3 linked regions of the Homo sapiens genome follow. The protein of the gene in region 2 purifies or fractionates together with the protein of the main gene of each other region. This does not show direct contact. Each region holds a gene or a part of one and is shown on either strand. Other genes may lie near its edges.

Region 1 (3,550 bases), on a different chromosome or scaffold from region 2:
CTGGTGGGCAGGTCCACAGGGGGGGCTGCCCTGTCCCCTAGGCCTCCGTCCCCAGGGCTGCCAGGGGCTCCCCCGCCCCCACCCCTGAGCACCATCCCCATCTCGCAGCTCCTCTGAGGAGTCAGAGAAGAACCTGAGGAACCTGGCAGAAGACGAGGCCCACGCCTGTGCCATCCTGATCAAATGAGGTGCTGCAGGGGTGGGGCCCTGGTCCTCACCACTGGTGACGTCCACCCCCTTCAGCCCGTCTGGGTACCATTTGGCCCTGGTCTTCTACCTGAGACCCTGGCAGGCCCATGTGATGGCACTCTCTGAAACCTGGCTGCCTTCCATGGAGTGCCTCAATTGGGGACTTCTGGTGCTCACACAGACACCAGTGTCATGGTTGGGTATTAGAAAAGCAGGGCCAGCCCCTCAGCCCTTGCATGTGACAGGTGGTGGTTAGGACAAGACCAGATTTGTTTTGTTTTGTTTTGTTTTGTTTTGTTTTTGAGACGGAGTCTTGCTCTGTCGCCCAGGCTGGAGTGCAGTGGCGTGATCTTGGCTCACTGCAACCTCTGCCTCCTGGGTTCATGCCATTCTCCTGCCTCAGCCTCCTGAGCAGCTGGGACTACAGGCGCCCGCCACCACACCCAGCTAATTTTTTGTGTTTTTAGTAGAGACGGGGTTTCACTGTGTTAGCCAGGATGGTCTCGATCTCCTGACCTCATGATCCACCCGCCTCGGCCTCCCTAAGTCCTGGGATTACAGGCGTGAGCCACCGCACCCGGCCAACAAGACCAGATTAAACCACTTAGAGGTGGCAGTAGTTTGGGGCTTGGGAGCTGGTTTGGCCAGCCTGTTTCATAGATGAGATCACTGAGGTGCACGAGGTCAGGTCTCATCGGTTGGGCCCAGCAAGTGGCTGACTTACCCCTGCCTGAGTCTGTGGATCCTCACCTAGATGTGGGGCCCATAGATCTGCCCAGCGCATTTGCTGCCTCATGTTCCCAGGCACCTGACTGTAGGCCATAGCCTCACCCTGCACAGGACATGGACACCTCCCAGCTCTTTGTCTGGTGCCTCTCCCTGGCCTCAGTGGGGCATATGTGGCCTGGCGCTTGGATACCCATCTGGAGACTCAGCAAGCCCATCTCAGGTGGTCACTGAAGGGCCATGCCTGCCCTGCAGAGGAGACAGTGGCAGCACCTGTGTGGTCTGGCCGCTGTGGCAATCCATCTGCCCTTTTGCCCTCCCTCACCTTCTGCTGATACCTCTTCTCTCCCTCTTCCAGGAAGGCCAGAACTATCCCGACCTCCACCTGCCCTGCTCGGAGCTGGAGTGCTGGATCCCTGGCACCTGCCTGGCCCCTTAACATAGAACCACGCCTGCTAACCTGTAGGCTCCACTGGGACCTGCTGTCCTGTCCCGCCTGACCCTGGGCCCTGGAGCAGCACCAGCCCCAGGGTGTGGGCCTGGGACCTGGGCCAGAACTGAGCCCTCCTGCAGGCATTTGGCTGCCCTGGGGGCCCACTGCCTAGGGAAGAGGACAGGTGGGGCCCAGCACCTGTGCCACCTCCCCCCCTCCACACACCATCCTTCCCCCTCACTTTGCAGAGTATTTTTCCTTTTTTTTTTTTTTCTTAAAGACGGAGTCTTGCTCTGTCGCCCAGGCTGGAGTGCAGTGGCCCCATCTCTGCTCACTGCAAGCCCCGCCTTCTGGGTTCCCGCCATTCTTCTGCCTCAGCCTCCCAAGTAGCTGGGACTACAGGCGCCCACCACCACGCCCAGCTAATTTTTTCTGTATTTTTAGTAGAGATGGGGTTTCACCATGTTAGCCAGGATGGTCTCGATCTCCTGACCTCGTGATCCACCCACCTCAGCCTCCCAAAGTGCTGGGATTACAGGCGTGAGCCACCATGCCCAGCCCTGCAAAGAGTATTTTTCTAGCGCCTGGGCTGGACAGTTGTTTCTAAAACTAAACTATTTTGGTACCTGCTTCTGGGCCAGTCCCCAGCCTGTCATGAGTGTGTGTGTGCGGGCATGGATGTGACTGGGAGCTCTGCTGGGCACCCACATCTGGGGCCTAGTCAGGTGTGTGTGTCCGGCGGGGGGGGGGGGCAGGGGGGGGGGTCAAGATGAGTTTCCCTGTAGATTGTACCTTGGGGTTTTTTTCTGTCGTTTTGTTAAAATTAGCGCCATTTTAATATTAAAAATACTGATTTTTAATATTGAAAATAAAAGCATTTAATATCTCTTAAAGGGCATCCACATCTGCTTTATCCCTAGCGGAAGAGTGAGGGGGCTTCACACGTGCACTCACACTGTGGAGAGAGTTGGATTTCCCAGACCCCTGAGGGCACCTGTCAGGGTCATCCCCATTGGTGCTGCTTGAGGCTACTGGGGACTGTGGCACTGGACGTGGCTGGAGCAGGTGGTGTCACCTGAGTACATTCTTTGCTAGCAGACAGTGGATGAGGCCCCTTCCTCTTCCTCACCAAGCCTGGGGCTGTGCCAGCCTGTCTTAGGCCAGGGCCTTGCAGAAGGCGCTCCAGGCGTGGAAGCAGCGGGTAAAGGCGTGCTGCTCATTGCCCTTGCGGACCAGGCGCAGCCGGCGCGGCCGCTCATGTTCCTTGGACCGCATGTGCTGGATATATACCTGGCAAGGGGACAGCGAGCCTTGGGTGATGACCCTGCCCTGCCCACAGGCCCACCTCGGCCCTCCCTCCACCCAGATTACCTGGCAGGCCTTCAGGCTCAGCTTGATCTCCACCTGGCTAGTCTGGGTCCCCACCCACATGTAGACCTGTGGGGGCAGCAGGGGAGATACGGTTGCATGGGTGCCTGGGAACAGCCCCTTGCTCCTGGCCCGAGAATTCCCATTTGTAAGTAAGTCTATGGGCGCCTCCTTGGATGGGCAGGGCTAGTGGCAACATCACACCTCTTGGCCATTGTCTAGCAACATGATGTCATCATCTGCCAGGTCATCTTGGCAAAAGTCGGAGCATTTCTCAGTCACTGCAAAGTAGCCCTTCTCGTTGGAGCACCTGGGAATCAAGGGTCAAGGTGAGGCCAGAGGTCATAAGCAGCAGTGCCAGGACTGAGGGGAGGGTCAGGGCCCTGGCCTCACCGGAAGAGACGTGTGTGTTTCATGTACTCGGCATCGTCATCATAGGGCTTCTGTGCCCCAATGCCCACCCAGAAGAAGTTCTCAGGCTCCTCACCTTCGTTGATAACCTGCGGGAAAGGCCAGTCCAGCCCAGGGCCCCTGCCTGCCCTGGCTCCTCTGTGTGTGCCCGCCTGCCCGCCCGCCTCCTGACCTGCTTGCTGTAGGAGGTGTCAAACATGGTGTTCAGGATGTCTTCTGCCAACTTGGCTTCGTCAGGGTCTGATGCCCGGCCCACCCAGGCATACACGATGCCCTGGTTGTCCTCACTCTCAAAGGGAACCTGGGGAGTGTGCAGGGGTGGGGGTGTTCGCAGCTGACTCAGCCCCCAAACACCCCACCCCTTGGTCCACGGAGTCCTGGCTCACACCCACAACCCCACCTTGAGGATGAAGCAGAACTCGG
Region 2 (8,620 bases):
ACAAAAATTAGCTGGGCGTGGTGGCACGCATCTGTAGTCCCAGCCACTCTGGAAGCTGAGGCACAAGAACCTGGGAGGCGGAGGTTGCAGTGAGTGGAGGTCACGCCCCTGCATTCCAGCCTGGGTGACAGAGCAAGACTTAAAACAAAACAAAACAAAACACCAGTACATATTAAGTGTAACTTCTGCCTTACTGATGCCTAACTGAAATCAAAAAGCAAACAGAAAATGTGCTGTAATCAAGCAGTAAAATGTAACTATACTTAATGTCATACTTTATATTAGTTCCTTGAATTAAATGTTCATTAAGGTTTACATAAAATCAGATTTCTAGTTAAGCATCTGCTCAACTTTGCTTAAAAGACAGAGTGCGGCCGGGCGCGGTGGCTCACGCCTGTAATCCCAGCACTTTGGGAGGCCGAGACGGGCGGATCACGAAGTCAGGAGATCGAGACCATCCTGGCTAACACAGTGAAATCCCGTCTCTACTAACAATACAAAAAAAAAAATTAGCCGGGTGTGTTGGCGGGCTCCTGTAGTCCCAGCTACTCAGAGGCTGAGGCAGGAGAATGGTGTGGAGCTTGCAGTGAGCCGAGATCGCGCCACTGCACTCCAGCCTGGGGGACAGAGCTAGACTCCGTCCCCACTCCACAAAAAAAAGAGTGCATGCATTATAGTACACTAAGTAAGTCTGCCAGATTTAGATGCTGCGACCTGATGGTAAACCAGACAGACAGGAAACAAGTTAACATATTCTTAAATAAGATATTTCCAGGTCTTCAGAGGATGATGTGGTAAAGGTGGGAAGGTGGAGGGCTTTAGTTAGGGTAGTCAGAAGAGACTCCTCTGACAAACTTATCTGAGCTAAGCAGGAGGAGGCAGACGTGGGAAGAACCGAGGGTGAAGTGTCCTTAAGAATAACCAAGCATAAGAGCACAGAAACAGAAACAAGCTAACGGCTGGGTGCAGTGGCTCACACCTGTAATCCCAGAACACTTCGAGGCCAAGACGGGTGGATCACCTGAGGTCAGGAGTTCGAGACCAGCCTGGCCAACATGGTGACACCCCATCTCTACTAAAAATACAAAAATTAGCCAGGCATGGTGGCATGCACCTGTAGTCTCAGCTACTCAGGAGGCTGAGGCAGGACAATCACTTGAACCTGGGAAGCAGAGGTTGCAGTGAGCCGAGATTGCACCACTGCACTCCAGCCTGGGTGACAGAGCAAGACTCCATCTCAAAAAAAAAAAAAAAAAGAAACAAGCTCATCAAGTCTGAGGAACAGGAAGGAAGCCAGTGTGGCTGACTGTGATGAGGGAGTGAGAGAATGAGGGAAGATGAGGTTGGGAAGTCCAAATCAGAAGGGATTTTATTCTGGTTGCAATGGGAAATCATCAGAGGGTTTTAAGCAGGAATGAACTGACTACCTACTTTCATTTTTGCTAAAGTCATATTTGTATTAAATTTATATTTTTAAAATCTAAAATATTTCTGTTGAATTGCCTATTTCTAAATCAAATTCTAAGGGCTATCAATTATATTGGACATTTTACCATTAATAAATAGAAAACATTTGCACATAGAAACATATTTCTAAGTTGTAATTCCTATGACAACAATAAAAACCATCAAAGGTCTCAATAAAAATTATACCACCAATAAATAAAAACTTAGAAAGGAAATAAAAGATAACTACCCTTAAAAGATGTTAGGATTAATTCCATAATCATGCAAGAGTATAATTCCATTAACAAAACATGTGGTGGTATAACTCAACTGTCATAATCTTTCTACCAAAGGGGATAATCCAACAAAATTCTGTCACATGGCAATACTTTAAAAACCCACTCTATATTTGAATGCACATCCAAACAGCAACTAACTTTTTAAAGAAAATTACAATTGCTAACAAGAAAGGCCTATTATTCAACCATAATTATTTAAATTCTTCCTCCTTTTCCAGCACTCTATATATAGCTTTCCAAGGTTCTATCCATGGTCTTCATCTCAGATAGCCTTTATGTCTACTCCCAAAATTTTAACTATCACTTTTCAAAAAGCTTGCAAATCTAACTAGTTTTTGGATTTCTACCCTGAACTTTTGTCTACCATTTCTAATCTTCTGAATGACTGGTTAAGATTATTTGTCCTAAGACAAAATTCATAATTTTCTTTTCCAAATCAATCTACTCTGCTTGTTCATGACACTGTCCCAGCTGTCAGACTCAAACCATCAAGATATGCTCTGCTGGACTCTCCTTCACTGCAAAGCAGCCACAGTGAGTGCAATGACTCCCAAGTATTTCCCCTCCTACCTTCCCGCCACTGCCTTCTCCCCTCCCCCCACCCTTCCCCTCTACTTCTAGGCCAGTCTCCTCACTTCTTTACCGCCTGCTCCTGGCTCTCTACTGTAAGACTGCTGCCCACTCCAATTCATCCTGAACAGCCAACTGAATCTTCCTAAGGTCATACTCTCATTATATCGCATTCCTGTTAATTACCTTTGAGATCCATCTCAGGAAACTTTGGGAACATTAATTTGTGTGTGAAAGTATTTTGTAAAATAGTCAAGTGATATAGGCAGAGGTTATCCTTGGAGGTTTATTTTGTTGGTGGACTTTAGTTCCTCCAAACCCAGGAAAGCAAAGATACATAATCAGTGGAATTCCAGAGCCCTGGGAGTGGTCTAATGCTTATCAACTGATTAGAAATAGTTTTCACCTTCAAAGATAATCCCCACCCATTCTCTCAAGCTACTTTCTTTTCAAAAAAATTTTTTTGAGGAGTCTTGCTCTGTTGCCCAGGCTGGAGTGCAGTGGTACGATCTCGGCTCACTGCAACCTCCACCTCCTGGCTGATTCTCCTGCCTCAGCCTCCTGAATAGCTGGGATTACAGACATGTGCCACCATGCCCAGCTAATTTTTGTATTTTTAGTAGAGATGGGGTTTCACCATGTTAGCCATGCTAGTCATGAACTTCTGACCTCAGATGATCCGCCCGCCTCCACCTCCCAAAGTGCTGGGATTACACACGTGAGCCACCAAGCCTGGCCGCTCTCAAGCTACTTTCTGGGTTGGCTTATAAATACCGTAAGTCTTTAATTTATCCCAATACCAGGCTTGATGCTCTCATGCTGGCTTCCCAAACCACTTCATTTACAATTGAGAAAGGAAAAAATGGTACATACCATAATAAGCCCTACCCTGCCTATCTGCAGACACACATACATACACACACAAAGGCTACGAGATTAAAAAAAAAAAGTTTTAGGACTCAAAATACATTTGAAAATTCTTGGCTGAGCATGGTGGCTCATGCCTATAATCCCAGCACTTTGAGAGGCAGGGACTGGAGGATCACCGGAGACCAGGCAACATAGTAAGACCCAGTCTTTACAAAAAAAGAAAGAAAGAAAGTTATTGCCAAATAGTGATTTCAATTTTTTTGGAAGACTAATTAATATCAGTGTTTACATCCTTCCACAATAGTAACTTCCCACCTCATTTTCCAGATAATTAACTAGTTTTATACAATTTCTTTAAAAAGTATCCTAAAAGTAAAAGAAAGAAAGTATTTACTGGGTGCTTACTATAAGCCAGGGCACTGCACTTAGCTCATTTAATCCTCATAGTAATTCTACAAAATATTATAATCTTTCTATAGGTGCAGACATTGAGACTCAGGAAGATTAAATGGCTTTGTTTCTGGTATTTATTAACTGGTAAATACAGCCTTTGAAAGTTGGTTGCCACCAAAAAACAGGAATGCTTTGGATTCCAAAGTCACACTCTTTTCACATTTTTCTGAGTGGAGAATAATCCATTTGATAAAGTGAAGATTCAATAAATTCCCAATATTCAATAAATTCCCAATTTCTACTTAAGGAAAAATAAAACCAAAGAGGTTAACACAAAAGTAACTAGAAATATAAATTTTCTAAAGTACACTTAGTGAAGCATAAAGATATTAATTAAACCAACAATATCACAAATGTTTTAACCCACATGTTAGTTAACATAAGAAGATTCACACAAAATGTTTATTCACTAAGTTTGTGGCAAAGTCTGGGTATCCTTTCAGTGGGGAAAATACACTATTTCTATTTCTAACACAATTTTTCTAAACAGTGATACTTACCCTTCTTTTGTATAAATATCCTAAGCAGTGGATTGGCCGTTGAAACAGCTTTGTGATAATTATCATCATTATTTATAGGTAGTAAGTCTCCATGGATGTCTGCATAGCCTACCAAAACGTCAACATTGGGGATCTTATGAACATGTTGTAGTAATCCATAAAACTCCTCAAATTTTCCAGGTTTTGATCTTTCCAGCGAAAACCGACGAAATTCAGCTCCAAACTATAAACGTAACAAACATATTACTTAAAAAAAAAAAAAAAAGTAAAAGGACCCAATTTGAAAATGCATGCCATAGAAAAATTAACGAGCAGAGCAAGTATTTTTAATTAAGGAAAGATTGTCTATTGTGAAGAACCTTACTATCAGGGATTTTAAAAAGCCTAAGAAAGGCACAAGAATGTGCCTCCTGACTGCTGTGTCTCTGAAGAGCATTCCTTTCAAGAGAGGCAGGCTCAACTCTATCTATCCCTGGGGTACCTAGGCCTTACTGCGGACTGTTCTGCATAGTGACTCAGCTCAAACCCTGTCTGGAGCCCAGACTCTGACGGCAATGCTCTCCTCAGGTGCATCATGGGGTACCAAAGACTTGTCCAAGTCCTTATTTTGACCAAAGGAAAGCATTTAAGTGTCCTCCCCCATAAATGGAACTAGGATTTCATGGTATGTGGTAAGAATCAACAGCAAAATATACAAAAAGAACTGTGAGCTACGTGGCGTTAAGGTATGATCTTCCCTATGTTAATGCAGAAAAAAATAAGCTTCAGTAATACATCAAATGTATGTCCTATAACTATCCAATTAACGCACAAAGTGTTTATGTGTTTGGCACAGTGCTAGGCCCTAGAGATTGAAAGCCTCGAGCCTGCTCCAGAAGCTCACCAATTAGTGGGTAAAGAGAATAATTACTTCAGGGAGGTATTAAGAGATCACACAAATGGGGCGGAATGGGGAGGAAGACAGCCTCCATCATGCCCAATACTTACCTTCACAGTTCTGATTCTGAAGTCTGTTTCCCTACACCTCTGTTTTCCCAATGTCAAATAATTAAAAGTGACTCTTATTCAACACTAAGAACTGAGGCCAGGCGCGATGGCTCACATCTGTAATCCCAGCACTTTGAGAGGCTGAGGCGGGAGGATCACAAGGTCAGGAGTTCAAAACCAGCCTAGCCAACATGGCAAAACCCGTCTCTACTAAAAATACAAAAATTAGCCAGGTGTGGTGGCACATGCCTGTAGTCCCAACTACTCAGGAGGCTGAGGCAGGAGACTCTCTTGAATCTGGGAGGCAGAGGTTGCAGTGAGTCGAGATCATGCCACTGTACTCCAGCCTGGGCAACAGAGCAAGACTCCGTCTCAAAAAAGAAAAAAAAAAAAAAAACCAAAACACTAAGGACTGGCTTCATCTAGTCCATGATAAACAGGATTTATAACACTGTGGGAATAACATGGCATTTCCTCAAACGTGGAAACCTAAGAAAAGTTAATCTGCCTTCCTCAAAAAGTGTCCCAGTCATGTAAGTTTGAGAAACGCTACATAATTATGCTCTTGGGAATCACTGCGGAGACCAGCACTTTAAAGGCTCATTTAAGCCCTATGTTGGTTTTTAAAAATATTTAAACGAACGTTTGCCTAATGTGTTTAACCACTGAACTCATATTTCTTCCACCTATCTATTACTAGCAAGAAATACTAATGTAAAAATATTATGTCCCAGAGAAAAAAGGAAAAGAGAAATACTGTTGGTACAGCCTTAAGCATCATGTAGAGAAAGCCCCTACCATAATAATTTGAGTTTACAAATATGTCACTTCATTTTCCCAAAGGTCCCATGGGACATCTGGATTCACTGGTTTTGCTCTATCTAAAGTTCACCTGCTCTGCTTACACCCATACTCCTCAGTGGTTTTAACATCAAAACTCACTAAAAACACCTCTTACCTCTAACAAAAATTAAAATAGTTCCCAAAACACATTCCTGAAACATAAACACTAACATCTGTCAAGAAAATAAGGTGACTCATACCTAAGGCTCTCAAAAAGTTTAGTCACACCTTCACATTTCAAAGTAAATAAAAACTCAGGGAACACCCTTCATATCAGTTAGTCTCATGATGTTATCAAAAGTCACAGTTTCTCCTCCATTTTCTTTATTCTGGTATCACAACATGAAGTTGCTAGTGCTTGCTGATTCATCCACAGGGTTTATCACTTCCCCTGATGTATGAATGGGAATAACATCTGATCATTTAACATTTTAGGGCTTCAATGTTTTTGTTAAAGCTTTTGGATGAAATTTCTTCGCTCAATATTTTCTCTTGCTTAACTGTTATGATAAAAACAATAAAAAATTGTATGGCTTCATGGTATATTTGCACTTTTGCCAATATTGGCATGGGAAAAAAAAACCCAAGAGAAATTGTTATGCTTCTTGCAACACAACAATAGGATTAAGGGAACTTTTTACATGAACAAAAACACTAAGAGACAAAATTAAGATTCAATCAGCAATTATTCACTTGTGAACCATTTACAACTGTTTCATAGCCTAGTTTGCCCTAGCCATCCAGAATGTGTATGGACTCCCTTCCCCCAGTGTCTGTTGGTACATTCTAGAAATGCAAACTTAATTTTCATAGTCTATTTGCCTATGAATAATAATTAGGAAATTTTATGACTCAAAGACTGTTCCAGGGTTATTAAAGGACATCATCAAGATTATTGATTAAGAATCTTCCCAACACTAGAGATACAATTAGGAAGATAAAACAGTTACCAAAGAAAAGTCACATACTAGCTGGTACCACAAATTGAACTATAGGTATATTTACATTCTCCATTCTTTTATCATTACTATTTTTCCCTTCCACGTGTGAAGATAATAATGTTGACACTACTGCTTTATTGCATTTTTTTATTTTTTTGAGACAGAGTCTCCCTCTGTCACCCAGGCTCTGAAGTGCAGTGGCGCAATCTCGGCTCACTGCAACCTCCGCCTCCCAGGTTCAAGCAATTCTCCTGCATCAGCCTCCGGAGTAGCTGGGATTACAGGCATATGCCATCACGCCCCACTAATTTTTATATTTTTAGTAGATACAGGGTTTCACCGTGTTGGCCAGGCTGGTCTTGAACTCCTGACCTCAGGTGATCCGCCCACCTTGCCCTCCCAAAGTGCTAGGATTACAGGTGTGAGCCACCATGCCTGGCCAACATTACTGTTTATATGAAGAAAAAGAGATCCTAAAAATGGACCGGAACCCAGTGTGGTGGCTAATGCCTATAATCCAAACACTTTGGGAGGCCTAGGTGGGAATATCACTTGAGCTCAGGAGTTAGAGACCAACATGACCAACATGGCAAAACCCTGTCTCTAAAAAGATAAAAAAAAATTGAAAATAGTAAGAGAAAAATGGACCAGCTAGGTGCAGTGGCTCACGCCTGTAGTCCCAGTACTTTGAGAGGTAGAGACGGGCGGATCACTAGAGCTCAGGTGTTCAAGATCAGACTGGGCAACATGGAGAGACCCCATCTCTACAAAATAAATAAATAAATAAATAAATAAATAAGCTGGGTGTAGTGGTGCACGCCTGTAGTCTTGCTACTCAGGAGGCTGAAATCGGAGAATCGCTTGAGCTCAGGAGGTTGAGGCTGCAGTGAGCCGTGATCGTGCCATTGTACTCCAGCCCGGGTGACAGAGCAAGATCCTGTCTCAAAAAAAAAAGGACCGGCACACTACCTAGTTTTGGTTATAAACTCTTAGCAATCAGTTTTGTAAAAAGCTGTGGTATCACTAAAGCAATGTCAAAGAAAATACTGTTTCAAAAACCCTTCCAAATATTTTTTAAATGGTTAAGGTGACAAATGTTTCAATCTACTGAAAATAAATGTATCAGCAATATATATTTGAAACATATAAGGTGTCATAGACATACTAGAAACACTCACTACCTATATCTTGCCTATTTGTCAACAGCTAGAATAGTGGGACCGACTTCATTCAGCACATGTTCCTAGAATCAGTGTATGATTCTATTTAAAAGACACAGTTAGCTGAAAGTGCAGTATGGCAGTTCAAATATACAACATGTAGTTTAGACAGAAGTAAGTGAAAGATTCACAAATCAGTTGACAAGAGAAAGGCAAAAAGCCTGAAATTCCAGTTTTAAAGCACTCAAGGTTTCTTAGTACTAGAGATAAATTACTATTTGATTGTATTTATCAGTATACTTAGAATTCCTACTCATTTTTTTCTGTGGAAAAAAATTAAAGACTTGCTACCAAGATTAGGGCTATAAACTTAAAATTTTAAGATTATGCAATATCACAAGTGTTTTTCTTTCCATAACCTCAACTCCCACAAATCCAAACTAAACTTATAACAAAAATGCCATAAGAAGGTTCAACCACTGGGCATGGAACCTCTACTGCCACCATACCGCTAAAGGAAAAGTTCTGCTATGTATTTTGGGTCATCTTAA
Region 3 (7,870 bases), on a different chromosome or scaffold from region 2:
CCTTACATATGGTGACAGAGAGACTGAAACATTGTTCACAGAGAAACACAGAACATATACAAATCTCATAATAAAATAACCATGTATACCACTGTTTAGGGAAATATTTTAGAGGAAACATACTTTCACTACTGGCCCCAAATCCCATCATCCACTTAGGTTCTTCAATGTCAACTTTTAATACAAAAATACCTTCAAGCTGATAATTAAGAACATTCACAATGACTTACAAAATGGACAATATTCCAATGCTACACAAAACGGTTCTATAATACACAGCTTAAAGTTTTAAAGTTCTTGGCTGGCAGTTGATTTTTTTTATAGCTGATAGACACGATAACTACTGATCTGAGTAAAATACTGTTTTTAGCTTATACATATGTTCTAAACCATATTACCTCACAAAACAGTAAAGAATAAATCACTTTCTGTTGAAGAATCCTCTAGGACAAACACCAAACCTACACAGCCAAAATATTTTAGGGAGGCAAGTAAACATTTTAAGACAAATCATGACCAGTGGATAAAAATTTGCATTACCCAATTATATGTCCAGGAATTGTTCCTCTGAGTCAGTAAAGCATGTATTGGGCATAAATTAAAAACACAAACATAAAAAGCAAGTTACCGTTTTTTTTTTTTTTTTTGGTTTAGAAGGGTGTTTAATTCATGACATTACTAAGAATGGGTGTTTTTTGGGATAGAAAATTGGTCACATATACCAAATACACATTTTATATTCCAAAATAAAAACTGAGATTTCTTTTAAAACAGTGGAATCCTGATTTTTTCTTTTTTTTTTTTTTTTTTTTTACTTTCTGTGAGCTTATGAGGCCATTCTGCACATTATCAAAATGAAATCATTATGCAGTAACCTTATATATATAAATCCAATTTTTTCCTTTGTAGAAGAAAACCAAAATAATTTTACAAACTACATTTAACTTAGAATATAAAGAACTGACTAGTGTAAAATTTTGAAAATCTACCACTTTATTTTGAAGGAAAGTACACATCCTTCAAAACCCCGCTAACAATTCCTAGTTCAGTTTTCTATTATACAAATCAAAAAGTTAAATTCCTTGTGGCACTAACCAAAACTTAAAAATTAACAGAAGACTGAATTAATTAAAAAAAAAGCATACTAACTAATCAAAACAATCCACTGTGCAATGAATATTTGAACAATGAAAAAAACCTACCAAGCATCCTAATCAATTATATAGTTCTTGCTTCCATATTTTAATTCTGGACTTTCAGGATGGTAAATTATTAAACAGGTCGATTTCATGGACTGTCTAAACCTTGTAGTATTTCAAAATATTACCCTTTCTAAACCAAATCTGTGGTCCTAATCAACTTTTTTTCCAAGAAAAAGAAACGATATGTGTTTAAAATACATTCCGTAGCAGTAGAAACATCTTAGTGTCTCAAAATACTATTTACAAAGAACCCTGCTGATCCTGTGCATTTCGCTGAGGTGCTACTTGCACCCAGACTTCATCATCTGAAAAAGAACTTGAACTTCCTGACTCAGAGTCCAGCTCACTGAATCCATCTAAGTCCCATTCAGTACTAGACTCACTCCGTGCATCATCTTCCTCAGTAATAAAACTCTGACCAGGTTCAAGGCAGGAAGGATAAACACGAGCACAAAGGCAAATAAAGCCAGAGTCAAACTGCAAAAGGCCTAACATGGTACCTATATTAATCCACTGATCTTCCCTAGTATCATACTCATACACTGTCACTCGGTTCTTTTTCCATTGTGGGGTTGTAGAAGTGATGAGAAGCAACTTTTGGTCATGATTGACAATCTGGTAGTTGTGGGTCTCTGAATCCAAAGGAATATTACTAATCCGCCTCCATTCTCCCCTAGCTGGGTTGTAGACCTTCATGACTGGGATGTCACAGATACAATAGATTTCATCATTGAAGACACATGCTTCCTGAAAGTCACTACGTTTAAGAGAAGCACAGTTCAGCCACATATTGTGGCTAGGATCATAGCAAAGCATGCGCTTACTGTTGACAGCATAAAGATAGTTCTGAACCACTATGAGTTCAAAGGAATAGAAGGAATGAGGGACAGGAGCCACCAATGCCCACTGGTTTCTCTGAACACTGTAGCATTCCACTTCCTTCAACTTAACTCCAGTAATAGGGTCTCGTCCCCCCAAAATGTAGATGTAGCCATTGAGATATGCCACATCCATGCCCTCACGACACAGCAAGCGATCTGCAAGTTGCTGCCAACTATTCTGAGCTGGTTTATACACCCAGAGGTCTTTCCTGGGCTGAGCAGCTAGATAGATGTCATGGTCTGGGGACACACAGACAGCTGAGGAGGTGACAGTCTTAGTGTGAGCAAAGCTGGTCAAAGGGGATGGCATTGTGTAAATGTCCCCCGAGTAAGGGTCATAGCAGAGAAAGGGATCTCTAGGATGTCCAAAGAAGATCACCATCTCCTTGGCACACATACCCAGTCTCTGGGGTGGATTTTCTGCTGCAGATACAAGAGAGTTGCTGCTGCTACTGCTGCTGCTGCTGTTTGGCACTGGCACCAGAGACTTGTACAACAGGTCACCATAGCGCATCTGCAGGGCCCCTTCAATAACGTCCAGGCAGTACTTCTTCACGATGGGCTTGGTCAGCAGCCCTTCTAAGTAGTCCTGATCTTCTTCAGTGAAGTGCATCCAGCGCACGCACTTGAAGACTTCTGCAGCACTGGGACCCCGCTCTTTGGCAGCAGCCTCCAGCCACTGCACAGCTACATGGCATACAGTCCGCTCACTCTCTATGTCCAGACTATCCAGGCGTAGGACAGCCAGCAGCTGGGCCAGGGTTAGATCTGCTAGAGTCTCCTCCCGAATTGAACCCATTCGGCTGAGCTGCTTGAAGTTGTGAGCTATGTAGGACTGGGCCTGAGATCGAAGCTTGTGATGGTCGAAGGCGTCTGCAAACTTGAGGATGGCGGTGCAGTTGGTCAGGTCAAGACGTCGGGCTAAGAAGGAGGCACAGGCTTCCCGCACATATTCCAGCTGTAGCATGTCGGAGGCCGCGTACAGGCGCTGCACATTGGCCTCACTGAGAGACACACGACCCGTGTAGCAGTAGTCGACCAACACCTCGAAGGACTCGGCGTCCACATCGTGCATGGTCACGCTGGCCTGCTGGCTCTCGTACATGCCACCTGTGAACATGCTCTTGAAGTAGGGACACGCAGCTGCTAGCACGTTGCGATTGCAGGAAAAGAGGCGACCCGTGCCAGGCCCGCTGCCAGGCGTCACCACCTCGATGGTCACATCACACAGCAGCCGCGCGTCGTAGAAGGACTTGAGCTGTGCCAGCAGGGCTGCAGAATGGGCCGTGTCCTTTAACTCCTCTGGACCCGTGAAAAAGGCCGAAACCGAGGGCTTGGAAATCCTCTTGGGCCGCCTCCCACCACGGGGACTGGCGAGGCGGCGAGAGCGCGGGACGTCTTCCCGGGACTGCATGGTGGAGATGGCGACGGGCGCTGACGGCGAGAAAGGCTGCAGGACCAGGCTCTGGCTCCTCCTCAACCTTCCCTCGCTGACGCTAAGACAAGCCGCGTCCTGGAACAGACTGCGGCACGGGCCGCACTTCTGAATTCAGCCCTATCCCGCGGTGAGGCCTCCCTTTATTGCATAGACAGTGGCTGACTCACCCTCTCTCACTCCCGCGCCCTTTCTCCGCCTCCGCTCGCCCTCACAGGACCCGCTGGCTTGCAGCCGCGGAAGCCCCCACTGCCGCGCTGGCGATCCCGCTAGGCGCCCGGGAGAACTACTGCTCCCAGGTTGCCTTTCGCGCCCCGAGGCCTGCTGGGGCTCTCGGACGGCCGGGCGGGGACAGAGGGAAAGAAACCGCTTTGCATGTTGGGAGTAGTAGTTTGTGTAATATCGCGAGCTGTCCTTTAGTTGACTGCTCTAACAGTAGAAATTAATTCTCCTGGATTTGATGGTGAAGAGACTGTTGCCCAGGCTGGTCTTGAACTCCTGAGGGCTCAAATTATCCTCCTGCCTCGGCCTCTCAATGTGCTGGGATTACAGGCGTGAGCCACCGCCCCCTGCCAGTATTTCATAGGGTTTTGTGTGGTTCAATGATACCTTACATGGGATACTTAGATACATGTATGTTTTTGGTTAGAAGAATAGTAAAGCGTTACCCCGTGCCTAGAATGTAGCCAATAACTGTTAGATTCTCTTTTATAATTTATGATAAATGAGGCACCCACTAATTTGAAACCGAGTATTATTTTAAACCGCAAAATTTTACAAAGAATTTCTAGTTTTTAATGTTTATTCCTTCGAAAGATTTTGAAGGGCATTAACAATATTTTCAATATTAAATGATATCTATTGGTCTCGTTTAATAAGGATGTCTTAGACGACTAGGTTGAGGTCCTAAAGAACAGTATTAATAGATGGTCTCAAATACGCAAATCCAGCATATAAAAATAAATTATTTGCTGCTCTCACTAACATTTCATCTCTGGAGAGCAGGAGTATTTTCGTTAAGCTCCAAATATGAGTGTTTTCAAGTCGTCTAATACAGCCTCTTTCACTGCCGTTCCACAAATCAATTAACAGATTATGTAATTCCCTTTATTAAGGAGTTTTAGGGAGTATTTTAACTCAAAATATTTCAACAAACAGACTTTGTTCTGTACAAAAGCACATGATTCTCAGAATTCAACATCAGTACATGCCCTGACATTCCTTGAATTAATATATAGTATAGTCTATGCTTTACAAAGTCTTTTATATTTGCATTGGGATCAACAGTTAAATCATCAAAATCAAGTATTAGAGATTTGAGGCAGGAAAATAGGGTCTGGAGGCAGGGAACATAAGGCTGATTCACACTTTAGCTATAACAGGAAAGATCCTCTCCATAGGGTGTATGCTGAGTAAATGAGTTTGTAACTTTACTTCATTCTCTTCATTTACATAGGGTGTACACCAAGTAACCAGTGGAATCCTCTAGAGGGTATTTAAACCTTCAGAAATTCTGTAACAGGGCCCTTGAGCCCCTATGCTCAGGCCCGCTCCCCACTGTGGAGTGTACTTTCATTTTCAGTAAATCTCTGCTTTTGTTGTTTCATTGTTTCCTTGCTTTGTTTATGTGTTTTGTCCAATTTTTTGTCCAAAACGCCAAGAACCTGGACACCCTCCACCAGTAACAGACTTTTTCAGATAACTTTTATTACAAAACCATGACTGCTCCTGCTGCTAGTTTGTTATGTTACCATAACCTAATAAAGAAAATCATCAGTGTTACATGCATGTATGGATAACACATTACAAGAGAATAACTTTCAAATTGTTTTTCTCTTATCAGCTGAAGATAACTTCAACTTATCAGCTGAAGTCCACTGGAAATACTCTAGGGTAGACACATTAAATTAAGTCAGCCTCTGGGCTCTAATAACTCCTCTGTAAATAAAAAGAGATGTTAGATATCCCTCAGATACACCAGAGAGAATCAAGTCAGTCATTATCAGTAACAATGATTGTTTCCTGACTTGCAGTGAATACCAGCTGGGGAAAAAAGCCTTTTTTTTTTCTTTTTTTTTTTTTTTTTTGAGATGGGGTCTTGCCCTGTCACCCAGGTTGGAGTGCAGTGGCACCATAATAGCTCACTGCTGCCTCAAACTCCAGTGCTCAAGCAATACTTTGCCCTCAGCCTCCCAAGTAACTAGAGCTATAGATGCATACCACCACACCCAGTTAATTAAAAAAAAATTATAGACAGGGTCTCACTGTGTTGCCAGCCTGGTCTGGAAATCTTGGTGTCAAGCACTCTTCCTGCCTGAGCCTCTGAGTTGCTGCAATTACAGGCATGAGCCACATGCCCAGCGCAGGAATGGCCATTTTAAAAAACTTCTTAAAATATTGGTAAAATATACATAACACTAAATTTACCATTTAAACATTTTCAGTGTATAGTTCTTTAGCATTAAATATATTCACACGGTTTTGCCACTATCACAAAACTGAAGCTCTGTACCCATTTAAACAATAACTCTCTAGCCCCCACTTCTGGCAACTGCCATTCTACTCTTTGTCTCTATGACTTTTGACTACTCTAGGTACCTCATATAGGCAGTGACTGATTTTTACCTTCCTTATATCTGCTCTTACTGTGTTATTTGGTTTAGGTTACCTGTCACACAATTGAAGATATCTATTAGGCACTATTCCCTAAGATCTAGAGCTATGTGCTGTCCCATAAAACTTGGGAATATTTTATATTTGTGCTGGCTGATACAGTAGCCAGAAGCCACATGTAGCTCTTGGGTACGTGAAATGTGGCTAGTGCAACTGAGGAATTAAATTTAAAATTTTAGAAATACAGCATGATACCAATGCAATTCAATGAAGAAAGAAAATTCTTTTCAACAAATGTTATTGGAACAACTGGATCAAGAATGTAAGACAGAAAGTTGCCCTTGCCCCTACCTTACACCATAAGCAAAAAATTAATTCAAAATTTCTCCTAATACTAAATGGAAAAGTGGAAACTATAAAGCTTCAAAAAGAAAACATAGGGCCGGGTGCAGTGGCTCACACCTGTAATCCCAGCACTTTGGGAGGCTGAGGCAGGCGGATCATGAGGTCAGGAGATTGAGACCATCCTGGCTAACACGGTGAAACCCTGTCTCTACTAAAAATACAAAAAATTAGCTGGGCATGGTGGCAGACACCTGTAGGCCCAGCTACTCAGGAGACTGAGGCAGGAGAATGGCATGAATCCAGGAGGCGTAACTTGCAGTGAGCCAAGATTGCGCCACTGCACTCCAGCCTGGGCGACAGAGCGAGACTCCGTCTCAGAAAAAAAAAAAAAAGAAAAGAAAAGAAAACATAGAAGACTATAGCTTTGCGGTTGGCAAAGTTTTCTTGGGACACCAAAAACACAGATCATAAAAAAAAGACAAAGTGAATTTCAAAAGTGAATTTCAACAAAATTACAAGCTGCTGCCTATGGAAAGGCAGTGAAAACAACAAAAGATAAACCACAGACTGGGAAAAAATATTGGTAACATGTATACCCGGTGGCCAATGCACATTAAATTCACAATAAGAAAACACTGAATACCCACTAGAATGCCTTAACTTAAAAACATCAATGATACTATATATTAGTGGAGATATGGAGCCGTTGGAACTCTCATATGCTAATAATAGGAATATAAATTGGTATAACCACATTAGAAAATTCTTTTGTAGTTTCTTTTAATGTTAAACGCCGTGTAATTTCACTCCCAGGCAGTTGCCTCAGGGAAATGAAAACATATATCCACAAAAACACTTGTATAAGTATCTTCATAATAGTGTTAATGACAAAGCTGGTCCTGTGAAGATGAGATTTTTCCCTGTTCTATGTCATGAAGCCAAGATGCGAAACTGAAAGTGAGCATCAAGCAGTGCAGGTTTTATTCCATGGCCATGGATTTGAGAAGCAGGAGCATGGCTCACAAATCAATTTCTCAGCTTCTGAGAGCCGGGAAGTCATAGATATAGGGCATCTTTAATGAAGGGGATGGGTATTAAAAGCAAGGGGTGGGGCTGGGCACAGTGGCTCACACCTGTAATTCCAGCACTTTGGGAGGCCAAGGCGGGCAGATCACTTGAGCCCAGGAGTTCCAGATCAGCCTGGGGAACATGGTGAAACCCCGTCTCTACTAAAATACAAAAATTAGCTGGATGTGGTGACGGACACCTGTAATCCCAGCTACTCAGGAGGCTGAGGCAGGAGAATCACTTGAATCTGGGAGGCAGAGGTTGCAGTGAGCCCAGATCACACCACTGGACTCCAGCCTGGGCAACAGAGCAAGACTCCTTCTCAA

Evidence for each region. The genes of interacting proteins can lie anywhere in the genome.
Region 1: the proteins of PARD6B (region 2) and LLGL1 purify together in Homo sapiens (affinity purification with mass spectrometry; 7 studies listed by BioGRID and IntAct, with this or other methods). This does not show direct contact.
Region 3: the proteins of PARD6B (region 2) and KBTBD7 purify together in Homo sapiens (affinity purification with mass spectrometry; 4 studies listed by BioGRID and IntAct, with this or other methods). This does not show direct contact.

The regions. Positions count from the first base shown.
Region 1 is NC_000017.11:18,242,635-18,246,184, forward strand, and holds the end of LLGL1 (lethal(2) giant larvae protein homolog 1), read left to right. Parts: intron 1-108; coding exon 109-187; 3' UTR 188-188; intron 189-1,273; coding exon of another isoform or gene 1,274-1,415; 3' UTR 1,416-2,241; downstream 2,242-3,550. Other genes in the region: FLII (protein flightless-1 homolog), read right to left, coding at 2,504-2,785, 2,921-3,026, 3,110-3,216, 3,300-3,428, 3,528-3,550. UniProt on the Homo sapiens protein: Cortical cytoskeleton protein found in a complex involved in maintaining cell polarity and epithelial integrity. Involved in the regulation of mitotic spindle orientation, proliferation, differentiation and tissue organization of neuroepithelial cells.
Region 2 is NC_000020.11:50,733,598-50,742,217, reverse strand, and holds part of PARD6B (partitioning defective 6 homolog beta), read right to left. Parts: intron 4,362-8,620; coding exon 4,139-4,361; intron 1-4,138. UniProt on the Homo sapiens protein: Adapter protein involved in asymmetrical cell division and cell polarization processes. Probably involved in formation of epithelial tight junctions.
Region 3 is NC_000013.11:41,190,761-41,198,630, forward strand, and holds the start of KBTBD7 (kelch repeat and BTB domain-containing protein 7), read right to left. Parts: upstream 3,810-7,870; 5' UTR 3,498-3,809; coding exon 1,443-3,497; 3' UTR 1-1,442. UniProt on the Homo sapiens protein: As part of the CUL3(KBTBD6/7) E3 ubiquitin ligase complex functions as a substrate adapter for the RAC1 guanine exchange factor (GEF) TIAM1, mediating its 'Lys-48' ubiquitination and proteasomal degradation.